4 linked regions of the Homo sapiens genome follow. The protein of the gene in region 2 interacts with the protein of the main gene of each other region in a pairwise test. Each region holds a gene or a part of one and is shown on either strand. Other genes may lie near its edges. The genes, in order: RORC, BMAL1, DHTKD1 and NPAS4.

What was found.
Region 1: the proteins of BMAL1 (region 2) and RORC interact in a two-hybrid assay, tested with the Homo sapiens proteins (one study listed by BioGRID).
Region 3: the proteins of BMAL1 (region 2) and DHTKD1 interact in binary tests that used the Homo sapiens proteins (3 or more experiments, as listed by UniProt).
Region 4: the proteins of BMAL1 (region 2) and NPAS4 interact in a two-hybrid assay, tested with the Homo sapiens proteins (one study listed by BioGRID).

Annotation. Positions count from the first base shown.
Region 1 is NC_000001.11:151,806,844-151,814,802, reverse strand, and holds part of RORC (nuclear receptor ROR-gamma), read left to right. Parts: intron 1-107; coding exon 108-229; intron 230-1,100; coding exon of another isoform or gene 1,101-1,182; coding exon 1,183-1,315; intron 1,316-1,456; coding exon 1,457-1,564; intron 1,565-1,745; coding exon 1,746-1,856; intron 1,857-3,368; coding exon 3,369-3,478; intron 3,479-7,169; coding exon 7,170-7,331; 3' UTR 7,332-7,959. UniProt on the Homo sapiens protein: Nuclear receptor that binds DNA as a monomer to ROR response elements (RORE) containing a single core motif half-site 5'-AGGTCA-3' preceded by a short A-T-rich sequence.
Region 2 is NC_000011.10:13,280,209-13,288,167, reverse strand, and holds part of BMAL1 (basic helix-loop-helix ARNT-like protein 1), read right to left. Parts: intron 1-7,959. UniProt on the Homo sapiens protein: Transcriptional activator which forms a core component of the circadian clock.
Region 3 is NC_000010.11:12,064,378-12,071,953, reverse strand, and holds the start of DHTKD1 (2-oxoadipate dehydrogenase complex component E1), read right to left. Parts: upstream 3,001-7,576; 5' UTR 2,921-3,000; coding exon 2,767-2,920; intron 1-2,766. UniProt on the Homo sapiens protein: 2-oxoadipate dehydrogenase (E1a) component of the 2-oxoadipate dehydrogenase complex (OADHC). Participates in the first step, rate limiting for the overall conversion of 2-oxoadipate (alpha-ketoadipate) to glutaryl-CoA and CO(2) catalyzed by the whole OADHC.
Region 4 is NC_000011.10:66,415,747-66,424,098, reverse strand, and holds the start of NPAS4 (neuronal PAS domain-containing protein 4), read right to left. Parts: upstream 2,920-8,352; coding exon 2,745-2,919; intron 1,980-2,744; coding exon 1,828-1,979; intron 1,649-1,827; coding exon 1,546-1,648; intron 1,426-1,545; coding exon 1,158-1,425; intron 977-1,157; coding exon 867-976; intron 860-866; exon of another isoform or gene 724-859; intron 522-723; coding exon 386-521; exon of another isoform or gene 265-385; coding exon 1-264. UniProt on the Homo sapiens protein: Transcription factor expressed in neurons of the brain that regulates the excitatory-inhibitory balance within neural circuits and is required for contextual memory in the hippocampus. Plays a key role in the structural and functional plasticity of neurons.

The sequences.
Region 1 (7,959 bases), on a different chromosome or scaffold from region 2:
GCGGAGGGAGGAGGCGGAGCAGGATAGGCCAGGCTGAGAAGTGCCCTTGCATGGGTAGGCGTAGGAGCTGGCTGAGATCAAGCCATGCCTTCCTTCTCCGGCCCCAGAGCACCTGGTGCAGAGCGTCTGCAAGTCCTACAGGGAGACATGCCAGCTGCGGCTGGAGGACCTGCTGCGGCAGCGCTCCAACATCTTCTCCCGGGAGGAAGTGACTGGCTACCAGAGGAAGGTGAGGCCAGGAGACCTGCAGGAAGGGAACGTATCCCACCCCCACCGGGAGAGTTCAGAGATGGCTACCTGCGCACGACTGGGTCCTGGGGCAGGGCGGGACATCACAGACACAGGCTGGCCAACAAGCATGTGCACACCTTTTATGTACAGTTGCGAATGTGTGTATCTGTCTACACCCCAGCAGATGGATGAGCGCTTTTCCTTAGTTCTTGCCTATTAAAATTGTACCTGGCCTTCATCCTACCTCCTCTACCATGCAGACCTTGGTGCACCCTCCTTCCTCCTCTTCCATCAACAATAACAATAATCAGAACCCTGATTACCATTTGTTAAACACCCCTTCTCTGCCAGGCATTGTGCTAAACGCTTTATGTAAATTATCCTCAGCCCCTACCACAACCAACCTATGAGGGTGGCATTTATTCCTACTTTTAACAGACAGAAACTGAGCCTAGAGGGGTTAATAGGTTTCCTCAAAGTCACAAAGTGGTGGAACCAAAGTCAAATTCAGATTCATCAGGCTCCAAAGTTTATGCTGCCTTTTCGATCACACTCTCATACCACCTGCTCTAAACACACTCGTTTGGCACTTCACATTTGCTTCTCCAGGTTATTGAGACCTTGGGCATAACCTTTGTGGGGGAAGGGGCAGCTGTATGTCCTGTTCACCTCAACGAGATATACCTTGTTGGAGGGCAAAGCTGTATCTCATACTTTTTGGATTCCCTCACAACAGCTAACTCGGTGTCAGCAGCCGGTAGGTGCTCAGTGTGTGGGACTCACTGGCAGGAATCTGTGCATTTGTGCTAAGACCAGGCTTTTGAAAATGCTAGTTGAGAACATAGGAGTTCAGAGCCTACCCCTTGCAGTTTATTAGGTGGGGCTCCAGGGCTCAGGAGGATCACAGGGCCACACAGAGCGCTACAGCGGGACCCTCCTCCCTCCCTGCAGTCCATGTGGGAGATGTGGGAACGGTGTGCCCACCACCTCACCGAGGCCATTCAGTACGTGGTGGAGTTCGCCAAGAGGCTCTCAGGCTTTATGGAGCTCTGCCAGAATGACCAGATTGTGCTTCTCAAAGCAGGTGCCCAGGGATGGGTGGGCAGGCCTGGGGACAAGGGGACAGAGCCAAGTGGAGGGAGGTGGCTTAAGGAAATCAGGGGGACAGAGTCAGATCCTGGCTTTGCTTGACACTGTCCCTGCATCTTCTCTCCCCACTGCCCAGGAGCAATGGAAGTGGTGCTGGTTAGGATGTGCCGGGCCTACAATGCTGACAACCGCACGGTCTTTTTTGAAGGCAAATACGGTGGCATGGAGCTGTTCCGAGCCTTGGGTGAGGGGCAGGGAGAAATGAGAGGGAAGATTCTGATGCCAACCCCAGGCAAAGCTTTGTGACCCAGGGCACCCTCTTTTCAGGGCGAATTGCCCCCTCTGCTCTAAACACAATAAGGGCGGTGTCCTCGGGCACCATCGCTCCAGCCACTCTCTCACTTTTCTCATTTCCACTCCATCAGGCTGCAGCGAGCTCATCAGCTCCATCTTTGACTTCTCCCACTCCCTAAGTGCCTTGCACTTTTCCGAGGATGAGATTGCCCTCTACACAGCCCTTGTTCTCATCAATGCCCGTGAGTGTTGCTGGGCTTGGGTGAAGGACATTCAGGTGGCAGGGGCATGGCAGATATTGAAGAAGAGTCTAGACCTTCAGATGTAGTTAAATCTGGGAAATTGCTTTAAATAGCAGAATGAGCCCTACTCAGTATTGCTATAAAATAAAATGAGTTAAAATAAAGATTCAGAGGACTCTCAGAGAGGGACAAGAGCAGCATAAGGTGGGGTTGTGGGAAGTGGGGAGAAATGAGGTTGAGAGGAAATGAGCCACTTTCCTGACAGAAATGTGTCTGATTGTTAGTCTATGGCAGTGATTTCATTGTAGCACACATCAGAATCACCTGGGGAGCTTTAAAAACTATTGCTGCCTGGGTCCCACTTCCAGAGATTCCAGTGTACATGTGCTCCATGACTTATGATGGGGTTATGTCCCAATAAACCTATCGTAAGTTGAAAATATGGTAAGTTGAAATTGCATTTAACACGCCTAACTTACTGAACACCATAGCTTAGCCTAGCCTACCTTAAATGTGCTCAGAATGCTTACATTAGCCTACAGTCTGGCAAAAGCATATAACACAAAGCCTATTTTATAATAAAGTGTTGAATAGCTCATGTAATTTATTGAATATGGTTCTAAAAGTGAACAGCAGGATGGTTGCATGGGTATTCAAAGTATGGTTTCTACTGAATGCAAGTGGCTTTCTCACCAACATAAAATCAAAAAATAGTAAGTCAACTCATCATAAGACTGGGACCATCTGTAATTGATAAGGGGTGCACTGAATTTTAACAGCCACCCCCAGGCCACCAAGATTAAGAATCACTGCTCTGTGTGAACTAATTTTAAGGCTGTATGCCTATAATAGGAAGACTCTGGATATCCTATCCACTCCCCTGGCATGGAGTAGCTGGGCTGAGCCAGATGAATACTAAATATTCAGAGAACCTAGGGAAGTGGGTCAAGCTGCTAACCTGAGTTTGCAGATCGAGACTATCAGTCTTCTGGCTCTGCCAGTGAGTGGACACCTAAATATGCCCTTCAAACTAGAAGATAAAAACTTTAAAGATGACTTCTGGATATTTTATAGAATCAGGGCAAAAGTTAGTCACAGATTGCTGCAAGCCCCCTGGTGCAGGCCTGGGCACCTTCAGGAAGGCCACCTCCTATCAGGAGCCCTTTTCGTACATGGGGGAGCTCTTTTCCAACTCTTGTTACCCCTATGACAGAATCCTAGTGCCTAGCATTGAATGAGCTATGTGGAATATCAGGTTACCAGGGAGAAGGTAGCTTGGAGTCAGGAGATCAGAAATTCTCATACCTTTCATCTCTTCCCAGTTTTCCTTGTAGACAGCTAGCCAAGCCCAACGTCCAGAGCTTACCATTATCAAACCAAGGCACACACATGCACGCGCTCAGCTTAGAAGACCTCTATCCAGCACAGATGTCCACAAAGATACACCCTTTTGTTGGGAGTTAATGTCCATGTTCTTTCTTGTTCTCATTACGGTCCCACCCCCTCCTCCAGATCGGCCAGGGCTCCAAGAGAAAAGGAAAGTAGAACAGCTGCAGTACAATCTGGAGCTGGCCTTTCATCATCATCTCTGCAAGACTCATCGCCAAAGCATCCTGGCAAAGGTAGGAGCAGTCCCTGGGGTAGAAGAGGCCAGGCCCATCGCTAGCTCTGTAACATCAGAGTTTGCGAGGGCCGGGGTCTGTGGGTACAGAGGAGGGAGTGCGGGAGTACCACTCTCTGTTAGAGAGCTTGCATCAGCAGTGGGAACTAAGGGAATGAACAGCTACTTCCACGTGCATAAAGACTGGAAAGTTAGAGGGCCTGGGATTGGGAGGGACCTCCAGGGAACAATTCAGTTTAATATAGCCAGCACTTACCCAGCACCTGCTTGTACAAGGCACTGTGGAAAGACACAGAGATTTGGTCGCTGCCCCCACCAAGAGATTTTAATCTGGTATGAAGAAGAGATCTGTGTATCACTAACTCTAACATAGAGTAGAATGTGGTATGTGATATAATAATAATGCAATTAACAGAGTGCTTTTGCTGACATGCTTTCTCATCCTCATGGCAACCCAGTCAATAGGACAGGTGTTCAAATCTCCCTGTGTAGCAGCCGGGCACAGTGGCTCACGCCTGTAATCCCAACACTTTGGGAGGCCAAGGCGGGTGGATCACCTGAGGTCAGGAGTTCGAGACCAGCCTGACTAACATGGTGAAACCCCATCTCTACTAAAAATAAAAAAAATTAGCCAGGCATGGTGGCAGGCGCCTGTAGACCCAGCTACTTGGGAGGCTGAGGCAGGATAATCGCTTGAAACCGGGAGGCAGATGTTGCAGTGAGCCAAGATTGTGCCATTGCACTCCAGCCTGGGCAACAAGAGCAAACTCTGTCTCAAAAAAAAAAAAAAAATCTCCTTGTAGCTATCAGGAGACTTCAGTGACTTAAATGCAAGATTGAATCCCAGTGCTCTTTGCGCTCTTTCTATCCCTGTGTCCCCTATGTATAACTATAATAAGTGACACCAGGAAAATGTTATGAGAGTATAAAACAGGGATTAAAAATAATTTGGGGGTAAAAGGAGTGGGTCATAAATACTTCCCAGGGAAGATGACATTTATACTAGGCCATGAATGATGTAAGATTTTAACAGGCATTCATGGGGGTGGGGCAGGCATTCCAGGCTTAGGGAACAATAGGAGCAAAACAAAAAAAATGAAAAAAAATCCTTTTCCTGAGGTTTAACCAAAAAAATGGATGAGATGAGTATGAGAGGCTGGGGATAATTGTTTTATGGGATTTGGGTGTGGGACTAGGGTACAATGAAGACCAAGAACAACAGGAGAAAAATAAGGAGGCAAAATAGTGTGTATGTGGAGAATCACTCATGGTACATCCTCACTAAAGTGTAAAATCAGGAGCTGGGATAGACTGGTGGGGCAGAAGAGCACCAGATGATCAGCCTGAAAATTAGGTCAGGGGCAAATCAGAGAGGACTTTCAATGCCATATAAGCGTTAAAGCTTTATTTCTAGGCCACAGGGAGCTCCAAAGGCTAGAAAAATGACACAATCAGAGCTGTCATTTAGGCAATTTACTTTGGAACCAGTATAAAGGAACCATTTATGTAATTATTCAAGCAGGCCTTTGCTATGTGCCAGGCACAGGGCTGGGTGTTAAGGATACAGCAATGACTTACACGGTCTGTGCTCTCAAGAACTTGAACTTTAATCTGCTACAGGATGGATTTGAAGGAGGAGAGACAGGAATCTGGGAGAGCAATTGGAAAGCACATCCGGTTGGATCTGCTTTCAAAATACATCACCTTCCCTACTATTACCACCACCCTGGCCCCTACCAGCTCTCAGCTTTCACTTGGACTTTAAGAGAGGCCTCCTAACTGAGCCCCTGTTCCACCCTCATCTGCCCTGTAGCAACCACACCTACTCCGCACCCACGGTAGCCCTTTTAAAAATGCAATCTCATCATGCCCTACTCCTGTGGTTTTTTTCTTGTTTTTGTTGTTGTTGTTTGTTTGTTCTGTTTGTTTGTTTTGAGGCAGACTTGCTCTGTCGCCCAGGCTGGAGTGCAGTGGTGTGATCTCGGCTCACTGCAACCTCCACCTCCCAGGTTCAAGCGATTGTCCTGCCTCAGCCTCCTGAGTAGCTTGGATTACAGGGATTACACGCCCGGCTAATTTTTGTATTTTTAGTAGAGACAGGGTTTCACCATGTTGGCCAGGCTGGTCTCGAACTCCTGACCTCAGGTGATCTGCCCACCTTGGCCTCCCAAAGTGTTGGGATTACAGGCGTGAACCACCACACCTGGCCTTGACTCCTGTTCTCAGCCCTCCTGTAGCTGCCTGTGATGCCGAGAATCAAATCTAGAGTCTGCGTCATGGTCAAGTGGCTCATAACATGATCCCTGCCTTCTTTTCTCACTTGATCTTCCACTGCCCCTTCAAACACCCATTGCAGCCACACTTGCTTCCTTGCTATTCCTCGAACACATCAAACCCAGTCGCAGGGCTTTTGTACCTGCTATTGTAGTCACCTGGAGGGTTCTTCCCCCAGTTTTCCAAATGGCTTACCCCATCTCTTCATTCGGGAGAGGTTTTTCCTGACCAGTAACCCCATACAAAAAGCTTTAGTTTTCTTTAAAGAACTTATTATCTGATACACTACATATTTATTTTCTGGGCCCCTCACCAGAATGTAAATTTAATCAAGGTACAGATTATACTTTATTGACTGATATATCTGATATATCACTAGAGGCCATCACAGTGCCTAGCTCAGATCCAGATGTGTTCTCAACAAATATTTGTTGAATGAATGAAGGAAGCTATTGCCATAGCCCAAAAAAGCTCAGAATAAAGCAGTGGTGAGGAAGAGAGAGAATCTAGGAGATATGAAGGGATCACACCCTGCTGCCTGCTTTTCTCTGACTGCCTCTTTCCAAGGAAACTAAGCTGGGGGAGGGAGGCAATGGCAGGCAAGAGACATTTTTAAGCCTCTTGGTTGTAGAGGAGACTGCAAGAGATAAATTGTTCTTTCAGCCTTGCTCCAGTGAGGTCTCCCTGCCTCCGTCTGCTCACTGGTTTCTGTGCCTTTTTCATCTCCCCTTTGGCTGAGTGCTGGCAGCATTGGTTTGCTACTTGCAGTGTTAGGTGCCTGCTTAGAAAGTCTGTTTAGTTCAAAGAGTTATTAAGCATGTGCCATGTGCTAAGCATTATGATAGGTACAGAGGAGACAGGGAAAGAGAGACCTCAGCCAAGGAGCTGAAATCTAGGGTGGGAAGGCAGACAAATTGGACCATTTTCCTGCAATGTAGTAAGTGCTACACAGAGGAAAGCCCAAAAGAAGGGCCCTTAATCCAGATGGGAGGCAGTTAGGGAAATAGTCTTAGGAGAGGTGACACTAGAGGGTAAGGATTAGTAATGGGAAGAGGGGAACAACATGCACAAAGGCAGAGGCATGTGACAGCATACAACAAGAGTCACAGACAATCACTCTTATAAAAGCAGGAAGTGCACATTAGAGTCTTTGACAAGGTTCATTCTAGAAGTATTGGGAACATAAATTGAGGGCTTCACCCAGAAAACATTCACCTGTGCCCCACCCACTCTCACTTCCCTCCAGTGTCCTGAACACACACGTACTTCTACCAGTGGGATTTGGCTGGTGCCAAAGTGCCAAGTACATAAGGGGAAGGCAAGGAGGGTTTGTCCTAGCCCAGGAAGAATGAGCGGACTTCTTTGCTCTGAGGAGAGCTGAAGTATTGACCCTCCCTTCCCCATTAACCCATATCCAGCTGCCACCCAAGGGGAAGCTTCGGAGCCTGTGTAGCCAGCATGTGGAAAGGCTGCAGATCTTCCAGCACCTCCACCCCATCGTGGTCCAAGCCGCTTTCCCTCCACTCTACAAGGAGCTCTTCAGCACTGAAACCGAGTCACCTGTGGGGCTGTCCAAGTGACCTGGAAGAGGGACTCCTTGCCTCTCCCTATGGCCTGCTGGCCCACCTCCCTGGACCCCGTTCCACCCTCACCCTTTTCCTTTCCCATGAACCCTGGAGGGTGGTCCCCACCAGCTCTTTGGAAGTGAGCAGATGCTGCGGCTGGCTTTCTGTCAGCAGGCCGGCCTGGCAGTGGGACAATCGCCAGAGGGTGGGGCTGGCAGAACACCATCTCCAGCCTCAGCTTTGACCTGTCTCATTTCCCATATTCCTTCACACCCAGCTTCTGGAAGGCATGGGGTGGCTGGGATTTAAGGACTTCTGGGGGACCAAGACATCCTCAAGAAAACAGGGGCATCCAGGGCTCCCTGGATGAATAGAATGCAATTCATTCAGAAGCTCAGAAGCTAAGAATAAGCCTTTGAAATACCTCATTGCATTTCCCTTTGGGCTTCGGCTTGGGGAGATGGATCAAGCTCAGAGACTGGCAGTGAGAGCCCAGAAGGACCTGTATAAAATGAATCTGGAGCTTTACATTTTCTGCCTCTGCCTTCCTCCCAGCTCAGCAAGGAAGTATTTGGGCACCCTACCCTTTACCTGGGGTCTAACCAAAAATGGATGGGATGAGGATGAGAGGCTGGAGATAATT
Region 2 (7,959 bases):
TTAGACAAGTCTGTGTCCATGAATGCAAACTGGTCCATTCCTACTTCTGTGTTTTTAATTATGCTGTTTCCGCTCAGCCACTTCCTGGAAATACCTGTCCTCACCTTGTCTGTGAATCGAAATCCTACCATCCTTAAAGGTGAAAACCTGACCAGTTCTATGAAGCCTCCTCCCTTCTACAATGCTCATAAAGATGTTCCACAAGGCAATCAAACTGCAGGCTCCTTGGTCACAACAACAATTTCTGCTCTTCCTTTGGGTCTAGTAACATTCTTGGCATATAGACTCACAGATATTTGTTGACTGAATAAATACATGTGTAGTACTATGCCTAAATAAATATGCAACAAGTTTTCTTTTAGTTAATGTGGCTCAGCTATAGATTTGCTGCAGTTTGGAGCCAATTAAAGATAACAGAAGATGAACATCAGCAGGGCAGGGACAACCATCATCAGTAAAAGACACTGATACCTGACCAACCTGAAGAATAAGAAAAACACAGATGTCAAAAAGAAATGGCAACCTAAACTCCAAAGTACCTTGCAAGACCAACCTCATAAGCCTATACTGCTAGAGAGTGGAGGAAATTAAAAATTTATCCAAAGCTGAATTCACTTTTTGAAGGAATAAACAAGTATTTATTGAGAGACTTTTCTGTACAGACACTGTTTTCATTGCTAGGGGTATAGCAGAGAACAAGAGATGACATTGCCACTGGTATTCCAGCATCCAAGAAGGCAGGCTAGGTCTAATGCCACCCTCTAGCTCCAAAGTGAAGTCCATGAAGCAATAACTTCTTGTACCAACTCCTCGCTATGCCTTCAAGTAAGGAAAAAAAGGAACACACCATTCACAACTGACCAAATAGAGGCAGAGCTAAAAGTGCTCTGTCACTCTCTATGAGGCATCCCTTACCCTAGAATGCACTGGGGAAGTTTGCAGCACAGCACTCTGCACCTAAGTCATTTGAACACTGCCAGTTGAGCTCTGCCACTAACGTCACTTAAATATCAAACCTCTCAAATGGCAAATGTGGTTCATGATGTCGAAAACAAAACTCAGAGGTGGGAAGGGAGGGTGGTAGTTGGTTAAAGGATCAGGTACTTTTCACCACTGCAAAACCTTAGGTTCCTTTCTTCTTTGGAGCAAAAACCTCTTCTATCCTCTAAAACCTTGAAAAAAATTTTTTCTTCCAGCAGGGTACTGAAAATAGCTTTGCATTTAACATTTAAAGTTGTTTTTGATCCCACACTCTTTCAGCTCTGCTCTCTCCTGCAAACTCATTCCATTCCCTAAGGGCACTTATAACTATATTTTATAAGCAGGCAAGCCAGAGTCACCATTTTTATCCCTAAGAGTTAAAAAGAAAAAACAATTTACATAATTATATGGAAGATAAGTTGGCCAAGAACACAGAAATCTTATCTGGACCAAAAGTTCTGGGACAAAATTTCTTTCAACTCATCAAGAAAGATAGCAGATCAAAATCAAGGTTCCTACTGAGAATGTCACTGCAGAGCTCTGCACATGGGGAACTGCTTGAGTTCCTCATTGCTGAGTGCCATATACTTCTTCAAGAAGAAATCAGAGGCAGCCATTTGAGGGCAGGTTTGAACAACGAAGTATATCTACGTTTCCCTGCTATGGTGAGAAAACAATAGGATTTTACAGCCAAGAAGAACCTGAGAAATCAAAGTTCAAAGAGGATAACTTACTCAAATTTACTCAGCCAGTCAGTGGCTGGGCCCAGTCTGGAGCCCAGGCCTCTCCCAGCTCCCAGTCCAGAGTTTTCCCCACTCTCTGCACTACTGTCTCATTTATAACACATGCAACCAAATCTTAAAGGTATAAAGGTAAAAAATCCCTTCTATAAAACTTTAACAGACTGAAAATACAGTAGGAGAAGTGACTGAGGTAAATGGGTCCTATGATTGCTAACAGCAAATGAGGTACAATGCTACTGAGAGGAGGGTCTACCAGCAGAAGGCTTGACGACTGCTGATACCAACCAGTATGTTTTCAGCTACAGTCACCACTAAATAGCTTTTGAGGGCTCGCCTAGAAACTACATCACTATTTACTTCATTGTTTCTTATAGAAAAATTTATCCCAAGTTTCCACCTAGTGCCTTACAAATAAACTTTTGGAACAAAACCTGTTTTTAAGATGGTTGTGCACATGAAGCAGAATTATGAGGTCTAAAGTTCTGCACTAAACACAATTAAAACAGTAATATTTGGTGAAACATGCTAGGAGTGCATTTATAAGAAAACCCTTCAAACCCTTAATTTGTTTATATGCAATATAATGTTTTATTAAAAGCCTTCTAAGCAGGGTATGATAAATTATTATTTTATAAAATTACTATTTTATAATATATAACCAATGACAAATGCTATAATTCTGTATGTAAGTATTTACAAGGCCTTCCTAACACTGGGCTCAGGGTTAAAGGGAGTATAAAAGAGGCAGAAAACATCTGTACACAAGCAGCTCATAATCGAGTCACACTAGCCTTTACTTTCCTCAAAAATATCAAGCACCTTTCAACCCCAGGGCCTTTACATGTGCTGTTCTCTCTTCCTGGGATACTTTCCCCCAGATCTTTCTGAAGCTAAGTTCAAATGTCACCTCCTCAGAGAGGTCTCCCCTGTGATCTAGATAAGGTACCCTCCCTCCCACCATACCTCATCGCTACTGCTTTACTCTATTTGCTTGCTATCCTAGCACTCCTAGCACTTCTCACAACAAGGCATGAACGTGTTTCACTATTCATCATCTGTCCCCTCCTGCGGGCCCCTTGTTTTGTTCACTGCTGTATCCTCAGTGCCCACAACAGTGCTAGGCATCCAATAAACTTCACTGACGGAGTAACTGAGTGAAACTGGAGAGTGGGAAGTGAGCGTAAGATAATTAACCATGAAACAATTAAAAAATGAGACAACTGGCCATCCTGATTCAGTATGATATGGTAATTTGCTCATTATGACATACCCCTGCTTCTGAACGAATGAATGGTTGGCAATCAAGAGCAAAAGGGAGAGCACACACAAAGGGAACAAATGTTATCAGAGGTACCTCACAGAGAAGTGAGATCCAAGGCAGGCACGGGCAAGGAAGAGAGGCCTCAAGGGAACAATTTAAGCAAAGACCCCGCTAGCCAGAGGGAGAGTGTGAAGTGAGGTGGCCTAGGGAGGACAGCGGAGAGGCAAGGAGGACTGAACCTCGGGCACAGGGCTGTGGCTGGGAATGGAGGTTGAGCGGGGAAGCAGGGCTGGGGAGGAGGAACAGGACCAGACCCTGGAGAGCCTGGAAGACTGGACACAGGGGTGCCACCTGCATGCCACTGGCACCAGGGCTGTTCTTAGCAGGCAAAGCTGGCCTGTCATCTGGGAAGATTGAAAGGAGTTGAGCAGAGCAGAAAACTGGTCAAAAGATGACCTGGGTGGTCTAAGTACGAGGGGGCAAAAAGAGCTTCTTCCCTCTGCTTAGGTGTGAGAAAGATACAAGTGAGCAAGATGCGAAGGCATCCCCCACCCCCCGCCAAAAAAAAAAGACAATTTCCAGAGCATCTCACAGTACCACACCATGGCAGATTCAGGCCAACTTCCCATCCATCCTGCTCCCGGCGCACTCAAGAAAGGCAGAGCTCAGGACGAGAGCTCTGAGGGCAGGGCACGTCCTTCCATGCCTCCCAAATCTGAGGTTAATTATATTCAGGACGGCCTGTGTTTATTATCCTTTTATTCTTTGAAAAAAAAAAAGTGGTATCTAATTTCACTGTGCAGTATATATTTGAACATTATATAACACATTTTTATGTAACAGGTTCTTGACATAAAACAATGTGTCCCTTACTATCTAAATGTATTTGGGGAACAACTGGCATTAAAAAAAAAAATATATATATATATATATATATATATATATATACACACACATATATATATATATACACATATATATATACACACATATATATATATACACATATATATATATACACACATATATATATATACACATATATATATATATACACACACACATATATATACACACACACACACACACACACACACACACACACCCCAACACTGTGGATATACCAAAGTTGTGGACGTTGGTCTTCAGGGAGAAAAGGACGAAGGTGAGGGACCTTTGAAAAGGTCCCCTCCCCAGTGAGGAGCTCTGCAGATGGCTAGATGAGGGTGGGAGGTGGGGTTAGTGAGTTATGTTAAAAGGTTCATCTCACACAAGGAGCTGCCTGGGGAGGAGCTGGCTGAGCCACAGGGGGCCTGGGTCAGAGCAATGCTGCAGAGAAAGCAGGGGGAGGCCAGAGAGACAGCCATGCATAACAGGATGTGAGGAGAATGTTCACAAGCCCCTGGAGCTGCTGCTCAGGTAGCATCCAGGTCCGCATCCCTTATGCGGAGGGTTTCAGGCAGCTCCGCTCTAAAAGAGGCTCATACCATGTTTGTCAACAATAAGACTGGTTCCCAATTGCTGTCAGCCTACTAGGCTCCTGGCATGGTGCGGCTGAGTGAGGTAAGGGATATAACGGGGTGTTTCCTCCCAGTAGGAATCTACTAGGGTGTTACAGGGCAGACTCTGGAGTTCACCAGCACAAATTCTGCCCCAAGCCATAACAGCTGAGTGACCTTGGGCAGTTTATAAAACCACCTCATTTGTGAAGTAAGGATAATAGTACCTGCCTCATGTAGTTGTTATGGGGTTTAAATGAGTTAATAAGCAAAGGTGACTCACATATGTGCTGGCACATAGAAAGTGTTCAATAAATGTTAGCTGCTATTATCGTAATAATTATTATTCCTATTTTGCACTCAGAGAAGCTAATTAACTTGCCCAGGTCAGACATTTCAAACAGTGATTGAAGGAATAAATACAAGCCAATGCTTCATTCAGTATATGCACAAAACCCAGTGGGTAGAGCAATAGCCAAATATTAAATTAGGCAGACCAGCCATCCCCTTCTTTAACCAGGCTAGATAAAGAATTAGTTTACACTATTTAAAAGGACAGCACATACTAAGGTAAAAACCACTCTCCATTACATGCCAGTACTCAACGTTCCCCTGCAGCAAAGATGACTAAACCTTATCCAATCTTATCTCCCCCTGAGGTTAAGTCCCCAATTCAAACCCTCCTTCCATGCAGACCTAAGTACTTACGGCCATGTCCACTTATGGCCCTGTTGCACCCCCACCTCTATGCAGTGTGCATCCTGTTCCCTCCACCTGCTCCGTCCCTGAGTGCCCACCCCATCCCATCTCCTCCTCCACAAGATCAATGTGCATTGGACAACCATGGCCTAAAGGCTCCCTGTGCCTGTCATTTTGGAAAAAGCAAGATAAACTTCTCCCAGAATGCTCAGGCTGAGCGAGCAGGTGAGATATTTTCAGAGACAGCCCAACACAATATGGAATGCAGCAGAACCTAAGAGAATTGGAGAAAAATCAATGTGGACATTGCTGCCAGGTGTGGGGAGGAAGGAAAACAAAATGAAGAAATAGTGCTGCAGGACCAAGGCCCTGGGTCCTAAAAGCAGAGGAGGATTTGGACACGTGAAAATTGAGGGATGGACTGGGCCAAGGGCTGGTACAGGGAATGGACAGCCCCTCAGCTTGACTACAGTGTCCAGGCACATGGCAAGGTCTGGCAGACAGGCAGGCTGAATGTGGAGACCACTACAAACCAGGCCAAGGCACCCCGGCAAGGCAACGAAGAGCAGCAAGACTGACAGCAACATTCACTGAGTGTTTGCAATGTGCCATGAATAGACTGGCACACTTTTTCCAATGCTTTAACTCATTTAATCCACACCTCAACTCTCTGATGTAGGGGCTACTATGATCCCAGTTTTATAGATGAGGACACCAAGGCATAGAGAGCAAAAGAAAATTGACCACAAGTCACGAAGCCAGTAGGGAATACTTAGGATGTGAAATCTGGCTCCAGAGTCTGTATGCTAAACTACCCAACCAAACTGCCTTTTAGGACAGCCTGGGGAATGAAGGGATGTAGGCTCCAGTGTGTCATGAGGACTCAATGTGACAGTGCTTGCAAGCAGTCTGCAAACCTGTAACTCCGAGACCACAAATGCAGATTACAGGCTGCCATTCATGTCCACAACGGACCTGCTAGCAGAACACAGGAGAGACAGGTCAGGGCTAGAGAGGGGACCCCAGGCCACGGACAGTGTGAATAGCAGAAGCTAGGACAGACATTTATCTTTACAGGGGTGCAGGAAGAGAATCAAGAAACCAGCATGACCCAAAGGCTGAGAGAGGAAAGGATTTCAAAGGACAAAAAACAAGTGAGGTAAAAGCTTCAAAGGGGCTGAGCACAGTGACTCACGCCTGTAATCCCAGCACTTTGGGAGGCCAGTGCAGGTGGGTCACTTGAGCCCAGGAGTTTGAGACCAGCCTGGGCAACATGGCAAAACTCCATCTCTAATAAAAATACAAAAATGAGCCAGGTGTGATGGCACGTGTCTGTAGGCTCAGCTACTCTGGAGGCTGAGGCAGGAGGATTACCTGAGACTTGGGAGGCTGCAGTGAGCCACGATTGCACCACTGCACTCCAACCAGGCAAGACTGAGACCATGTTTAAAAAAATAAAAGAAATACTGCAAAGGGGCCAAGAACAACCACTCAGGAATAAGGATGGGCAGATGGGCCCCAGGAACTCACGACAAAGTTTTGGAGAAAACTTTGAGAAGAAATATAAAGAAAGGTGGTAGCGAGAGAAGCCAGAGGGCAGGTACTAAGAATGGAGCAGGAGATGGGAGAGTGGGGGAGGCTGGCAGGAGGGAGGAAAGAGAGGCTTACGAACCCAGGGTACCAAGTAAAGACACATGTAAATTGCCTGGTACACAGCAGGCTCACCACAAGTCTGACTCTGCCTCTTCCATCCTTCCTCTCCTAAGTCAAGCCTAAGGTTTTCAGGGTGGGGCAGGGGAGACTAAGGACAAACAGCACAAATAATATTCTAGTGATAGGACCCGGGTAGAGGTGAGAAGGAATGGCAGCTGGCACAAAGGAAAGGCTTCCTGTGTGCCAGGCCTTTTACATGCACCATCTCCCTTAATCCTCACACAGACTCCACGAGGCAGGCACTGCCATTACACCAAGAGGAGAAACCTGAGGTCAGAGGAGTCAAGCACACATCCAAGACCACAAAGCCCAAACCTGAGCCATGGATTCTTCTGCCACCAGAGCCCAGGCACTTGCCCATGGTGAGAGGCCAAGAAAAGGAACAGAGGAGAGGTCCACTTGCTTTCTCTGAATTGGGAGGAGATGAGGGGACGATGGGGATAGAGACAGGACATTTTGGGTGGGAAGTAAGAGATGCTGAGGGGGTTGAGTCAGAGCAGGTCTTATTTCATGAGAGGGAGAAGAAAAGACAAGGTGGGTATTTGGGATAAATCTGAGTCTTGTGATAAGGTGACAATGAAAAAAGACTGTGGAGAAGGATAACATGCCTGTGTCCCTAGCTCCCAACGAAACCTCAAGGTCTAGAAAGGATATTTTACTTCCCTGCAAGTACCTACTTTAGTTATCATGATGCTTCCTAAAATCACTGCATGTAATCACGGGGCTGAAACTGTTTATTTAATATTGATTTTCCTACCACAGTGAGAGTTGATGATGAAATCACAAAGAAAGCTCAGATACATTATAACCCTTACACCAAAGAGAGATATTAACTATCTAGTTTTTACCTTTTCATATGCAGTTTTGTTAATACAGCCAAATCTTTCTATGGTGCTTCTCCATCTTTTAGCATATAAATTCCACAGAGATTGTTGGTGTGAAGGGATAAATCTGAAAACATGGCCACTTCCTTTTCCTGCCCTGTGGCATGCAAACCTCTTCTGCAAATAGCAGACAAACTCGTAAGTAGTCATCATTTTATAAATCATTTGAAATGGATTCT
Region 3 (7,576 bases), on a different chromosome or scaffold from region 2:
ACATATAAAGATACTTGATAATTAATGTTACGTTTGCACATACAAAATGCAAATGTACTATATGTCACAAATAAATTGCGTATATAGAACCCTCTTTTCATTCCTTAGGAAGTATAAATTATTTGGGGCTGGACACGGTGGCTCGCGCCTATAATCCCAACACTTTAGGGGGCCGAGGCAAGCATTTCACCTGAGGACAGGAGTTCGAGACCAGCCTGGGCAACATGGCAAGACCCTGTCTCAAGTGATCTGTCTGTCTCGGCCTCCCAAAGTGCGGGGATTACAGGCGTGAGTCACTGTGCCTGGCCCCACGTCTGCACCACACCCAGCTAATTTTTGTATTTTTGCTAGAGACGAGGTTTCACCATGTTGGCCAGGCTAGTTTTGAACTCCTGACCTGGTGATCCGCCCACCTCGGCCTCCCAAAGTGCAGGGATTACAGGCATGAGCCACCGCGCCCGGCCTAATAAATAAAATTTAAAAAATAAAAACTAAAAAGATTTGATGTGAAATATGAGGTGAAAAAGATAAAGGTGGATTGCTCATCTCAGATTACTATACCTCTGTGGCAGAGACTGCTACGATTCCTAACTTCCATTCTGAACCCTCTCTTTGATAGTAATAGAGAGCCCAGTATATGGCCACCCAGAACAAAGAGCCACCTCCCAGCCTTCCCCATAACCTGGTGGCCATGTGACTAAGTTTTGGACAATGGGAACGTAGCAGCAATGTATGCAACTTCTGGGTCATGACCGTAAGGGGAAGGAAAGAAGATATCCCTTCTCTTTGTATATCACAGCACCTGAACTCTTCCAATCTAATACAGAATTTGGTACCAGAGGTGGGTTGCTGCCCTAACAGAGCCTAAAAATATATATGGCATTGGATTAGCAGCCAGGCAATGGGTACCAAGGACACAGGTATTTCCACCTAGAAAGCTGATGGGCAGTGTTATGCTACAGGACAAAACATTTGGTTTTTGTCCTGTAGGACAGGACTGAGGCAGACTACATGCCCTTGAAGCCTGTAGCTCAGGAGCGTATGTTCATTGTATCTTGTCACTTTCAGGAAGGCCCAAGAAGAAAGATGAGGTCAAGTTGGAGCTCCCTAATGAGCAAGTAGACAGGAAGGGGAATTCGGCTCTGCAAAAAGGAGGTTCCCTCTTGGCCAGGCACGGTGGCTCATGCCTGTAATCCCAGCACTTTAGGAGGCCAAGGCCAGTGGATCACTTCAGGTCGGGAGTTCAAGACCAGCCTGGCCAACATGGTGAAACCCCATCTCTACTAAAAATACAAAAATTAGCTGGGCATGGTGGCAGGTGCCTGTAATCCCAGCTACTCGGAACACTGGGGCAGGACAATCGCTTGAACCCAGAAGACAGAGGTTGCAGTGAGCCAAGATCGTGCCACTGCACTCCAGCCTGGGCGACAAAGCCAGACTCCATTTTAGGATTAAAAAAAGAGAGAGAGACAGAGATATGAGGTTTATTTTAAATGCCCTCCGAAGTGAAGAGCAAAATATTGAAGTTCTAGTGTGTGATTGATGGAACATTCCAAGGTCAGGTGCCCAGATGCCGAAGGGGATCTTCAACATTAATCTAATGATCAGATCAAAGATGCCAAATGATTTTCCTCTAATAAGCAATCTGTACTTATCTTCTACTCCGTGAGGATAAATAATGATACAATAATTTTGGAGCGTAAACCAAATACTCAAAATTAGTCTCGCAAATGAGCATGCAACAGAAGTTCCAAAAGCTGATATTCATGACTGTTAATTCATTAAAACCACCAGCACATATCAAGGTGTCAATAGAGTGGCTAAAAGGAAAAGAAAGAAACCCCACCAGCACATAGTTCCAAATTCAGCAGAGTTAAGAGTTAAACTCTGAAATTAAAGTAACAGACTAGCTACAAGGAGACAAATACATAATAAATATCATGCTGTCTTCCAAGACTGGAACTAACTGCCCACTTCTCCCAAGCAATGCAGTCTTGGACCCCCCCACCTGCTCACATAAAAGAAGCCTCAGAGATGGTCCTGGAAATGTATCCTTGGGAGACCTTAAAACTTTACTTCTCCCACAGCTCCGCCTCATTAAAGAGCTGGTTTTCTAGGCTGGGTGCAGTGGCTCAGCCTGTAATCCCAACACATTGGGAGGCCGAGGCTGCAGGATCAGCTTGAGCTCAAGAGTTCAAGACCAGCCTGGGCAACATGGTGGGACCCCATCTCTACTAAAAATGAAAAAAAAAAAAAAAAAAAAAAAAAAGCTGGGCGTGGTCATCCCTCTGTGTCCCCAGCTACTCGGGACGCTGAGGTGGAAGGATAGCCTGAGCCCAGGAGTTCGAGGCTGCAGGGAGCTGTGGTCGCAGCACTGCACTCCAGCCTGGGCCACAGAGCGAGACTCCGTCTCAAAAAAAAAAAAAAAAAAAAAAGGAAACAAAAAGAGAAAGAAAAAAAGAGTTTCTCACACGTTTCCAACAAAGGAAAGAAAAGCCCTTCCGAAACCAGGTCCGGACCAGCAAGATGGGAAGACCACCCAAGCGTGGACCTCAAAGATCCTCAGTTACAGAGGATGGACGGGGGATGACCCCAACACTGAGCACCCACACCTACCCTCTGCTCCCCTCACCTCCCCCTCCTCCCCACCGGCCGCGCGTTCAGGCCGGCAGCCGGTTCCCCGACCCCGACACCCCACCGCAAATCGGCCAGGGGAGGCTTCTGCGTCCCAGCCCCCGCTCCCACCGCCCGGGCCCCATCCCCGACCTGGGGGGCGCTCCAGGGCGCCCTGGGGCTCGCGGCTCTCGGGCTTCCTCGGCCGGTAGCCGTAAACGCCCCGCTCGGTCTGGTAGCCACGCCAGAAGAGAGGGAGAGCCCGGCCGAGGCCCCGTCGTGCTGCTGCCGCAGTAGCAGAGGCCATGTTCACCAGATGTCCCGGCCAGCATGCTAAGGCGGGAGCCCGAGGGGATCCCACCGGCCCTGGTAAATCCGGGACTCGTCAGAGGCGGCCGGAGCCCCGCCCCCAGACAACGCCCCCGCGCCTGATTGGCCGACGGGCCGGACCCTGGAAGCCAATCCGTGGCAGCGGCACTCACAGCGAAGCGACGCCCAGGATTGGGGCGGGCTTCCAGGGCGGTTCCGGCGGCTGAGACCGCCCTGCTCCACCGCAGGGCGGGGCAAGTAAGTGTTCCGCGGGGCGGCACCTGCTCCCAGTACGAAACAGGATGTAGCTGCAGCGCCTGTAGTCTCCCGCCAGGAGTGTTTACCCATCACGCCTCTGCCCAACCGCATAGACACAGTCTAGGGTGTCTGTTACAGAAAGGACAAATTAGCCACAGGGTGGATAGGAAATGGCTAGGACTGAGACCAAGGGACGCAAAAAGCAAAGGTTACTTAGCGCAGCTACAAAATCAATACCCCTAATTTTTTTGTTTTCTTAAGAAACATTAACAGAGGCCGGGCGCGGTGGCTCACGCCTGTAATCCTAACACTTTGGGGGGCCACAGCGGGAGGATCATCTGAGGTCAGGAGTTTGAGACCAACCTGTCCAACATGGCGAAAACCCATCTCTACTAAAAATACAAAAATTAGGTCGGGCGCGGTGGTTCACGCCTGTAATCCCAGCACTTTGGGAGGCCGAGGCGGGCGGATCACCTGAGGTCGGGGGTTCGAGACCAGTCTTACCAACGTGGAGAAACCTCGTCTCTACTAAAAATACAAAATTAGCCAGGCGTAGTGGTGGGTGCCTGTGGTCCCAGCTACTCGGGAGGCTGAGACAGGAAAATCGCTGGAACCCGGGAGGTGGAGGTTGCGGTGAGTTGAGATGGCGCCATTGCACTCCAGCCTGGGCAACAAGAGCGAAACTCCGTCTCAAAAAAAACAGAACAAAAACAAACAAACAAACGAACAAAAAAAAAAAAACAAAACAGGCTGCAGTGGCTCATGCCTGTAATCCCAACACTCTGGGAGGCCCTCTGGGAGGCCAAGGAGGGCGGATCACGAAGTCAGGAGTTCGAGACCATCATGGCTACTATGGTGAAACCCCGTCTCTACTAAAAATACAAAAATTAGCCGAGTGTGGTGGCGGGTGCCTGTAGTCCCAGCTACTCGGGAGGCTGAGGCAGAAGAATCGCTTAAACCCTGGAGGCAGAGGTTGCAGTGAGCCAAGATCGTGCCCACTGCACTCCAGCCTGGGCGACAGAGCGAGACTCTGTCTCACAAACAAACAAAAAACATTAAGAGAGAAAGAAGGAAATAGGGTAAAGGGAGCAGGGAAGAAAGGGATAAGAGTCAAAAGAAACTGGACATGAACGATTAGTTGGTCTGTCTCTGAGTGAGTTTCCCAAATGATTTTTTTTCTGTGGCTTACTTTTAACTTTGCCAGTATGGTAGGAGAGAGAGTCTGCATCCTTACCTGGTTAGTCATCCTTCGTTCCAGTAAGCTGTGCAGCTATACCCCAAACTCCTAGGAATATTATACATACAAGCCCAAGACATCCTCCTTCTTACTCATTCAACCAGTACACTCATAAAGCACTCTGCTGGGTTACAAAGATTAATAAGGCACAGTTTCTGCCCTTAGTTCCCAGTCTAGCTGTAGATAGAACTCAGCACACAGGATGATAGATTATATAATGTAGGCACATGTAAGTGCCCCCTGCAAGCACAGGAGCGTCATCCAGCACAGCTACTGTAGCTGGGACCCCTTAGGTCCACACTTTGGTGGCCTCCCCATCTTGCTAGTTTGGACCTGGTTTTGCAAGGGCTTGTCTTTTTTTTCCTTTTTTTTTTTTTTTTTTTTTTTTGAGACGGAGTCTCGCTCTGTCGCCCAGGCTGGAATGCAGTAGGGCAATCTCGGCTCACTGCAACCTCCATCTCCCGGGTTCAAGCAATTCCCCTGCCTCAGCCTCCCGAGTAGCTGGGATTTCAGGCGCCTGCCACCACGCCCAGCTAATTTTTGTTGCTGTTGTTTTTGTTTGTTTGTTTGTTTGTTTGAGACAGAGTTTCTCTCTTGTTGCCCAGGCTGGAGAGCAATGGCGAGATCTCCACTCACTGCAACCTCCGCCTCCCAGGTTCAAGTGATTCTCCTGCCTTAGCCTCCCAAGTAGCTGTGATTACAGGCATGCGCCACCACGCCCAGCTAATCTTTTTTTTTTTTTCCTTTTGAGACAGAGTCTCGCTCTATCGCCCAGGCTGGAGTGCAATGGCGCGATCTCGGCTCACTGCAAGCTCCGCCTTCCGGGTTCCAGCCATTCTCCTGCCTCAGCCTCCCGAGTAGCTGGGACTACAGGCGCCCACCACCACACCCAGTTAATTTTTTGTATTTTTAGTAGAGATGAGGTTTCACCATGTTAGCCAGGATGGTCTCGATCTCCTGACCTCGTGATCCGCCCACCTCGGCCTCCCAAAGTGCTGGGATTACAGACGTGAGCCACTGCACCCGGCCATCCATGCCCAGCAAATTTTTGTATTTTTAGTAGAGACAGGGTTTCTCCATGTTGGTCAGGACGGTCTCAAACTCCTGACCTCGGGTGATCCACCCACCTCGGCCTCCCAAAGTACTGGGATTACAGGCGTGAGCCATCGTGCCCAGCCCTGGCTAATTTTTTTGTATTTTTAGTAGATAAGGGTTTTCACCATGGTGGCCAGGCTGGTCTTGAGCTTCTGACCTCAAGTGATCAGCCTGCCTCAGGCTTCCAAAGTGCTAGGATTACAGGCGTGAGCCACCGCGCCTGGCCGGACTTGTCTTTTTTATTCCTTGGTTGTGAACCTGTGGGAACCTAGCTCTTTGGACGGGTGGGGCTGTGGGAAAAGAAAATTTCTGAGATCTGAGTGTGTTAGGGGAACCTGCAAGTGGAAGGGAAATTAGAACAGAATCTTGAGGCATGAGGAGTTAGGCAAATGCACAAAGACAAGAGCACACCAAGGAGATGGCAGTGAAGAATAGATATGGGATAACTGGATAATCTAAAGAGCTTTGAGTAGAAAGGAGGGGTTAATTACAGGATCAATGTCCCTCAAGTTGATCCACGAACGAAAAGATAATCTTAGTCAGGGGCATGGACATTTTATATAAGAAGAGGAGGCCAGGCGCGATGGCTCATGCCTGTAATCCCAGCACTTTGGGAGGCTGAGGCAGGTGGATCACCTGAGGTCAGGAGTTCGAGACCAGCCTGGCCAACATGGTGAAAACCCACCTCTACTAAAAATACAAAAAAGTTAGCCAGGCATTATGGCAGGCGCCTGTAATCCCAGCTACTCGGGAGGTTGAGGCAGGAGAATCGCTTGAACTCGGGAGGTGGAGGTTGCAGTGAGCCGAGATCCTGCCATTGCACTCTAGCCTGGGGAACAAGAATGAAACTCCATCTCAAAAAAAAAAGAAGGAAAAGCAAAGAATCAGATACATACTCATGTGCATTGATAGATTTGATCATGGAAGGATATGGGAATTCTTTTCTGCTTCTAATTTTGGTGAAAAAGCAAGATCAGCAGCTGAAAGAGGGAGTGAGGAGATATGGGAGGAGGTTTGAAAGGGAAGAAAAAATTTTGAGACAATGGGCTGAGAAAGAGGACTTATCGGGAACAGTCATGATTTGGGGGTTGCCAACAGCCCACTGAGGCTTCAAGACCAGTCAGAATGGTTGCGAGTTTTTCTCCAGATATATTCAGCTCCCTTTGCAGGTACAGGGCAGAATGGAGATGAATTTACCCAAGTATGGGGTTTTGCTTAGCAGGTTTGATGAAGACATTAGGCAAGGGAGTGTTCACAGCATTGAGCCATAGAAACTAGGCTGGGTAACGGGACAAGCAAAAGGGAGGTTGACACTGAAAAATTGATAGGACCAGTGGATTGAGGGTAACAAGAGGCAAAGAGTTGAAGTGCAGACACTAGAATGAGTGAACTGGTGGTCAGATAGTGGGATGCTTGAAACTGAGATTTTGTATGGAAGGTGGACTTTGGTACTACAGGGAGAGAAACCCCTTCTTGAGGCCTGTGGACCTCAGGTGAGAATACTTGATGTAGATTGGCAGAGTTCAAAATGTTTCTAAAAGTTTGATAGCATGCTGTGTTGGTAAAGGTATGGGCAATAGGTACTCTCATACATTGTTGGTAAAAATGTAAAGTGGTACGAACTATACAGAGGGCAGACTGTGAATATCTTACAAAATTAATAAAATACATTCTGTTTGACCCAGCAGTTCCACCTTTGGGAATTCATACAAAGAACAGACTTTCATGTACACATTCACACACAATTTTGTACATATTCATTGTAGCGTTGTCTATAATTGAAAGAAAAGATTGTGAGGCCCGGCGTGGTGGCTCATGCCTGTAATCTCAGCACTTTGGGAGGCCGAGGCGGGCGGATCACGAGGTCAGGAGATTGAGACCATCTTGGCTAACATGGTGAAACCACGTCTCTACTAAAAAAATACAAAAAAATTAGCCGGGCGTGGTGGTTGGCGCCTGTAGTCCCAGCTACTCAGGAAGCTGAGGCAGGAGAATGGCGTAAACCCGGGAGGTGGAGCTTGCAGTGAGCCGAGATCGTGCTGCTGTACTCCAGCCTGGGCGACA
Region 4 (8,352 bases), about 53 Mb from region 2:
GTCAGGTAACTGAAGTCCAGTTCTTTGGAGGGTCGGGGAAGCTCTTCTGATGCAGAGACAACACTCAGTTCAGGAGCACTGGGGAAGCTGGTGCTTCTGGGAGCCCCCAGTGCTGCGGTGAAGAGTGGGTTAGTGCTGGAGCACTCTTCCTGGGAAAGAATGTTTTCAGGGAATGAGGGCAGCATGGTCGGAGTGCCCAGGACATAAGCTGCCTGGGTGTCTTCAGAGTTCAACTGCTGGCGGAGGCTCCAGGCTTCCATGTCACTGGAGAGGAGAGAAGAGGCAGCTGGTAAGGGTCCGACGTCCATATCCAGAGCAGTTCCCTGATTTGTGTCTCCTCCATGACGACCTCAGCTGCCCCCTAGTCCCCTGGCTTGTGGCTTACCTGATTGGGTAGTTATTGGCAGTAATGGGTCCCTCTGGACCTTCTGAGTATAACAGGCAGTAAATCCATGCCCAGCCTCCAGTCTTGGCCTGTAGCCTCACCACCATCTCTGCCTGAATATCTCCACTCTCAGCCACTGGGGAGAAAGAAGATGCAGAGTTAGGATGTCCACCAGGCAATTCTACCTACTCCCCACCCTTGGTCACCTCTCCACTGAATTGAGATAGCCGTGACATCCTCTCTTCTGACTACCCTCACCTGAACCACTCAGCTCTCTACCTTGACCTCACCACTCAGAGTCCCCCAGTTCTGATTTGATTATTGCCTTGAATCCTCACCTTCATGTTCACCCTATAGCATCCGAAACTGTTGGCCTCTGTTATCTCCCCAGCATCACTCTTGACTACAGATCATTCTTTGTCTGGTCTCCCATGCCCTTTCCCAGCTTGCTATCTTGTCCCCAGCCTCTCTGGACACTCACACAGGCGGTAGTGTTGAGCAGAAGCGTGGGCCAGGTCCTCGGGGTGCAGCAGTCCATACCATGATTTACAAAGCAGTTCACTGCGCTCAAAGCCCAGGTAGATTAGGACACTGGGAAGGTGGAAAGGGTGAGGTCAGCTTTCTGTTTTCCTTGCTTGATACCCATGCATCTCACTCCCTCCCAGATCCTCTGCCCCCCTAAACCCCATCCTCCCTGCCCCTGACTCCAGAATCTAGGGTCCCTTCATCTCTGGCCTGCCTTTCTCTTGGAATCTGAACACTCCAGGCTTACCTCTCGGAGATGTCCAGTAGAGCCAGGTCTTTAGCATGGCGGCTCTGGAACATGGCCAGGAAGAGCGAGGCAGGGCCAGGGCCAGGGCCAGGACCTGGGCGGGGTCTCGGCTCCAGAGGGGCACAGAAAGCTGTGAACACGGGATTTCCTGCCCAGTAGGCTCCAGGTGGGTGAGCATGGAATCGGCCTCGAATAAGCACGAGTTTGTTGCCTGCACTCTGGCGCCTGAGGGACTTGGAGGTGTTGAAGCGGCAGCGGAAGAGGCGATCTAGATAGATGAAGAGAAAAACAGATAAGAGGGTGAGTGGCTGAGAGAGAGACAGTGGATGGTGGGGAGAAGGGCAGCAGGTGGGAAATTGGACCGAGGAAGGGAGAAGGGAGTCCTTACCAGTGTCCAGGGCAGAGGGCAGGGTGAGTTGCTGGCGCACAGTGAGGTGGTCAGCTGGGTCAATGATGTCGTAGATGCTGTCACCCTGGGCAACCAGGTCCACCTGGAGGGAGGAAAAGAAGAGATGACCATTAGGGAGAACAGCAGGAGCCAATCTTTGATCTACAGTATCTTGTAGGGTATAACCTCTCCCTCCATAGTAATTCCCAGTTCCTCAGGAGTGGAAGGCTCACGGCACCCACTCCATGCCCAGCCTCAGCTGAAAGGACCCTTAGCACTCACCATGGAGTGGCCCAGATGCTCGCTCACACTCTCAGACAGGTAGAGCAATTTCCCCTCGGCTGTGAACACAAGCAGAAAGCCGGGTAGTGCCGCTACGATGTCCTCAAGCTCTTGAGCTGAGAGAAGCCCCGTGGGGCCCGCCAGAGGAGTGCCTGTAGGGCGAGAAGACGTAGTGCGTCAGGAGTAAGACTGGGAGGCAGAGAAGAAGTGAGGAAGGCATGGTCTGAGTTTCAGAGAATCCAGAGGAATTTCTCATGGACCTGCCTCTGCAAACACCTGTTGACCCGCTGCCCGCAGCTCTTGGCCAGGGAACCTGTTGCTGTATCTCCATAGCCCACAAGCCCTCGACTTCTAAAGCGGGGTCGGCTCCTCTCGGCTCTTAATTTCAGAACCGCGGACAGAGCTCCAAAGCGGCTCTGAATTTCAGAACCGCGGACAGAGCTCCGAAGCCGACTGTGGGTTCAGAACCATGGACAGAGCCATACACGGCCGGCGCAGCCGTCAGCACCATGGGCAGCGCCCCGAAGGCGACAGGAGATCCCTTTCAGCACCGCGGACAGTAGCTATGTTCCCCTAGGCTCAGGCAGCTCCATCCCTGCAACTTCCCGGGCTTCCCTCCCCGGCTCCCGGAGCGCTTCTGCACTGGCGGGCACCGAGGCCGCTCTGTCCTGGCTCTTATCCTCTCATAATCTGGTGTTAGGGACACCGTCCAGGCTCTCTAACTCTCATTCAGAACTAAGGTGAGGTCTGGAGGGAGCTCAGGAGGAAAAGTAGAAAGTCCCGAATCTCCCGAGTCCCGAATCTCCCCAGCTCGCCAGCACGCTGCCCTAGACATGCGACAGCCCCAGCGGGTTCCCTCAGCTCCAGGGTCTCCGGCGCCTGGCAGCTCGGATCTGCGGTAGCCCCAGCATGCTCACCACCAGCGAAGAAGACGCCCTTGCGAGTGTAGATGCAGGCGAGGCTCATGATGTGCAGGTAGGACAGCCGGACCTTGTCCGCTTCGGCCAGCGGCAGCAGCTCCTTGAGGTTCCGGATCTCGGCGTTGATCTGGTCCCGGCGCGCCTTGGAGGCGCCCTTGGTGGAGCGGTACATGACCGGCGGCTGCGGAGCTCCAGCTCGGGTGCCCGAGCACCTGCGCTCCCGTCCCGACGCACCGGCGGCTTCCTCCTCCGTGCTTCCCCGTCTCTCGCTCAGGCTCGCTCTCTGCTCTCCTGGGCTCCGCTCGGCTGCGCTGCCCCCCTCGCCTGCCTCACGCCGCCTTATATAGCTCCTGCCAGGCGTGGGGGGCTCGTTTTAGAGCCGGGGGGGCGGGAGAGCGGGAGGCTGGGCTAAGCAAGCTGCAGCGGGAGCCGCTGACTGGGGAGGGGGGCTCCTCCTCCCGCCCGGCTTCCGACGTCATCTCATGACGTAGAATGAGAGAGGGAGGGAGGCGGGCGAGGGGGGAGCAGGAGGCTGCGGAGGGGGCCAAGCCTGGCGGGAGCTGAGCGGAGAGGAAGGCGCTGCGTTAGGAAAGCTTGAATGGAGTGTGGGGACCCTGGCGTCTGAATGCGTTCAGTTGAGGGAAGCGACAGGGCCAGGTTTAGGGCGGCCTGAAGCCCGCGGCAGGAGTCCGCAGAGGGCAGAGAGGGGCCGGCACTGACACTAATTTTTCTGAGGAGTTGAGGGAATGGGGAAGAACAGGGTTGTCTACAAATCCCCCTCGTTACTTGACAGACAAGGTCACGTTCACATGCAGGGAAGGAGGACTTTCCTTGGCCTCCGTGGGACAGGTCACTGCTGGGGTTCCTCTCTGGGGACTATTTAACCTGGGATTCCCTTGGCCATTTTTAGAGAACAAATTCCCGCCCCCGCTTCCCAAATCGGGCCTTGGCGGCTTATCAGGGGGTGTTCATGGGGGTCTAAGTCCCGAGGATGGGTGGAAAGGGAGTCCGGTGGGAAAGGGACCAGCTGAATTTGGCGTTGATCCTGTTTTCCCACAGCCAAGAATAGAAACCAACATCAGCGCTGTAGTCTGCAGTGATTCGTGGTTTCCCTCTCAGCTAATTAACCTTACTGAAGGGGAAACTGAGGCAGGGACGTGGGGGCACGGCGAGGACCTGGGTCTGCACTTAGGCATCCCTTCCCCCCGTTGCCGGCCCCCAAGCGAGCGCTTCCCCCCGCCCTGCTGCCAGCCTCTGTCTCCCCGCGGGCCGGGGGCGGGGGCGGGGCCGGGGGAATCCCAGCTCCATATTAGGACAGGAATCCTCCGGCGGCTGCCGCGGCTGCGGCGGGCGGGGCCTGGCTGCCTCCGCACCGCTCCGGAGGGCTCCCCGCCCTGCCTAGGCGGGCAAGATGGGGGAGCAGCTGAGAAGCGAAGGGGCAGCGCCGGACCCTCCATGACCCCTGCACCTACCAGGGACCCTGTATTTTTGCCAGGTTCCCTCCACCCCTCTCCACATTTGCGCCTCTAAGGCTCCTGGCTCTGCCTCTCCACCTTCAGCTCTCCACTTTCCACCTTCGTTTCTTTTTCTGTCCTTTCATATCCTTTTCTATCCTTTTCATATCCTGTCACCTTTGCCCTATCCCCACCCCCCCACACACCCGCTTTTTTTCTCTTTTCACCACAGATGATTGCTCTCTACAGGGGCGAGGATGTGCCGTTCTTATCCTGGGATTCAATAATGCAAGAAGCAAGTGGGCTAGGGAATGTTCTTATCTGAAATCTCGTTTGATGGAGTAGCTGTGTGCGCATGGAATCACTTAAGTGGCTGGAAATGAGGCCACTTAAAAATTGGAGGGTGGGACTGGGAAGTCCCAGTCACACAGGAAGCATGGAGATGAACTTTGACATCAAAAAGGACAATTTGGGGCCAGGGAACTCTCCGCTCCTCATGGAAAGGGGTGGTAGTAAGAGAGGTAGAGTGGGAGGAGAGGCGGCTGAGGAGAAGTATGTCTTAGAAGAGGTGTACAAGGTGTGGAGACCCTATTCTGGTGTCTTATGCATTTTGGCAGAGGTTGGGGCCATCCTGTGGTCAGTGTCACAGCTGAGGTGGAGGGAACGATGTCCGCTTATCTGTCTGCCACTGTCTCTAACCCCATTGACCTGGATGACAGAGAGATGATTCCTCCTGGACATGGGTCTGTGTTGCTTCTTTCTTCTCAATCTGACCTCTAATGTACCTACCCACCCCTCTCTCAATCTTCCATTTGAACAATCCCTTGATCTTTGGATCCCCTTCCGTATGAAATTCCAGGGGGGTTGTTCCTGTGTTCTTCATTCACTGATGCTAAAGCTGCCTGTGAGGCATTCTGAGTGTCCCCCTCCACAATAAGAGGAGTCTACTGGCTGGGTGTCATGGCCTCCAGCAATCTGAGCGAATCTGCAGTGAAGGAATACTGCGCCGACCGCTGTCCGTGGTGCTGAAAGAGTCACCATGGAAGTCATGCTACGGTTTGCCGGGGACATCGACGTAGGGCTTGGGTACCCACAGGCCTCAGAGTGAGCCTACTCTTTGACTGTCCCCTTATTCTCTGTGAATGAATATGGAGGGTTTGCAGGGGGCCAAGATTTCTGGGCTCTAAGGGTGAAGTAAGCAAGGGAGGAGAACTGGGCTCAGGGGAAGAGCCCCTGGCTTTTTCCAGGAGAATGGAATGGGAAGAAACACTTTGGAAGGGAAGAAGGGTCTAGAAAGGGACAAGGGAGGGGGTAGAGAAGGGCTCATCCTAGTTCGCCCACTCTGATTCAAGTTGAGAAGCTCTGTGTGCCCCAATGTCTCCTCTCCCTAGGCCAGCTCCCACTCCCCTTGCCTCCCACCTCCGTGAAGCTATTTTTAACTGTGCAGAACCAAAAATAGCTTGGCAGCAGCTTCAGGCCGTGGGAGAGGAGCTATTTATATCACCAGTGACGGTTCCGAAATAGCAAGCAGGAGGAGGGGGGCGGCTGGCACACTAGAGAGCTCCTGGCCGCTGCTAAAAATACTGGCAGTGTGAGTCATCCTGGCCTGGCTGAGTCACCCCACTCTCTCCCCCAAGTGGCAGGCAGCAGCAGAACAAGCTAAGAATTAGAAGCCTGAGATGGGGGAGGCATCAGAGCCTGCTGGCTGTGGGAAAGTGGGCAAGGGAGTGAATTGGGAGAGGGGCTTTGGGGTGAGCGTGTAGAAGGAATGGGAGAGCAAGCCTCTCAGCCAAACCTACTGGGCAAGCGTGCAGCATCCTCAGCTATGCACTACTGCTCAAGGATGCTTGGGCAATTGAAGGAAAAGAGCCAGACTCTGTGTGTGTGTCTGTGTGTTTGTGTGTGTGTGTGTTCATTTGACTGAGACTGTGTTTGTGTGTCCTGTGTGTCTGCCTCCAAACCTGTCTGGAGGTGGTTGGATGTCTACATCTCTATCTGTTTGCATGTGTCTTTGTAGCTGCGAGTCTGTACCCCTGTATATCTATGTTTACCTATGCCTGCATCTATGCTTGTCTTTTTTTTTTGTCTCCAACTTCCTATGTTCTGTGCAGTTCTATGTTTGTGCCTGTGTGTATTTATGTCTACAATTTTCCATATGCCTTTCTGTCAGTGTCTGTGTTTGTGTCCATATCTGAGTCTGCTCTGGGTCTTTCAGCATCTGATGGTGTGGTGGGATGTACATGCGTCCCCAGACTCAATATAGCTTCTGTTGCCCTCTCTGAGGTCACCCGTTGAGTTCCTGCACCATCTATATCTTGCTCACCTCTTTCCACCTAACATCTTCTCCTCTTTCCAAAGGCCCCCTAACCATTTGCAAAGCTCTCTTGTTGCATGCAATCTCTAGTAAAAACATGGAGGAAAGGAGCCCCACATGACCTCTCCCTTTTCTCTTGAATCATCCTGAATTCTCCCTGGCCTGCAGGAGTAAGTGGTTTTCCATCACTCCATATTTGGAGAGCTGAGAGAAGAGAAGGGCTTTCTTTAGTTCTAAAAAAAAAAAATTCCTGGTGTGGGCACAGGCATGTGTAGCGCGCATGCACACACACACAGGCGCACATACACATGCACGCACACACACACAACTGAGAGAATGAGAGAGAGAAAAAAATATCAAGGTCCCTTCTTTACTGAGACGAGCTCGCATCTGTTGCCATAGCAACCCACCCACTCCTTCCCCGAAAAATCACCGAGAAGAGGTGATGGCATCGAGGAGGGATTGGCTGATTCCTTTCTTTATTATTTTTTCCGAAAAAGGGTTTTTGTAGCAAAAACAGGCCGTGAGATCCCTTGCTCCTGTCTTGCATAGCTTTATTGGGAAACTGGGGGAGGGGCATCACCCCCCAGCCTTTATCAGAGAAGAGGAGGTGTATCTTTTCCAGAGATTTGGAGGAGGATTACCTCCTGGGAAGGAGTTGAAGGGTGGGTGAGGAATCTGCTTCTTCAGAACAGCATGGAGACTCCTGGCTGCTAGTCTGGAGATTTGGAGCAAGGATCTTGACAGAGGGCTGTCAAAGTGTGATCTTGTCTTGCTCTGGACAAATGTGTCTATGAGAAAGAGAAAGGGGGAGGAAGGGAAGGGAAGTGGGGAGAGACAGAAAGAATATGAATGAATGAATCACTGAATGGGGCTTCAGAGAAAATGACAATATGCCAAAGGATGCAAGCTTGCAGTAGTGGTCAGACCAGACAGGTGGGCAAGATGGTCCAAGAAAGATGCATTGATGCAATTGGTGGTGCTGCAAGTTACCAATGAGACCACAGCTGCAACTACTTAACTTATGGCCATAGGTTAATGTTCCAGAGGAGCACTGAAGCCCATTTTTCATAGTTCTATTCCCAGCCTGAGTCTCCAAGGCCTCCTCCAAAGCCTGGCCACCAGCCACTGCAGCCATATCACTCTCTCAAGTGAACTGTAGCTTGTTGCCAAATGACTGGATGGTGGAAAGAAAGGGATTCCTTGTTTCCTCCCGTGCTTGGCTTGCTACAGAAATGGGGTCACTTGGGGCTCGAGCTTGGAAAGACAGATGAAGAATCTGACCCTGGAGAGAGACACCTTCCTTTCTGGCAGGCTGCTGCTACCCTCAGCAGGCAAGGGCATGGCCAGCTGAGGTTGGCATGGGCAGTGGGTGCAAATCCACTTAACGTTATGAAGCAGAGGGACAAAAAGACTTCAGATTTGCTCTGGCCTGTTAGACACATTCTCACGACAAATCTGGCTGATATCATTATTGTTATTTATATACAGTCTTGCTCTGTCATCTAGACTAGAGTGCAGTGGCCTGATCATAGCTCACTGCCACCTCAAACTCCTGGGCTGAAATGATCTTCTGTGTCAGGATCTCGAGTAGCTGGGACTACAGGCATAAACTACTACACCCAGATAATTTAAAAAAATTTTTTCTGCCCAGGCTGGTCTTGAACTCCTGACCTCAAGCAATCCTCCCACCTTGGCCTCCCAAAGTGCTGGAATTACACGTGTGAGCCACGACACCCAGCCTTGACTGATATTATGATGCTCATTTGATAGATGGTGAAACAAAGGCTCAGAGATAGATAATGACTTAATCAAAGTCACACAGCAAGTCTGGCAA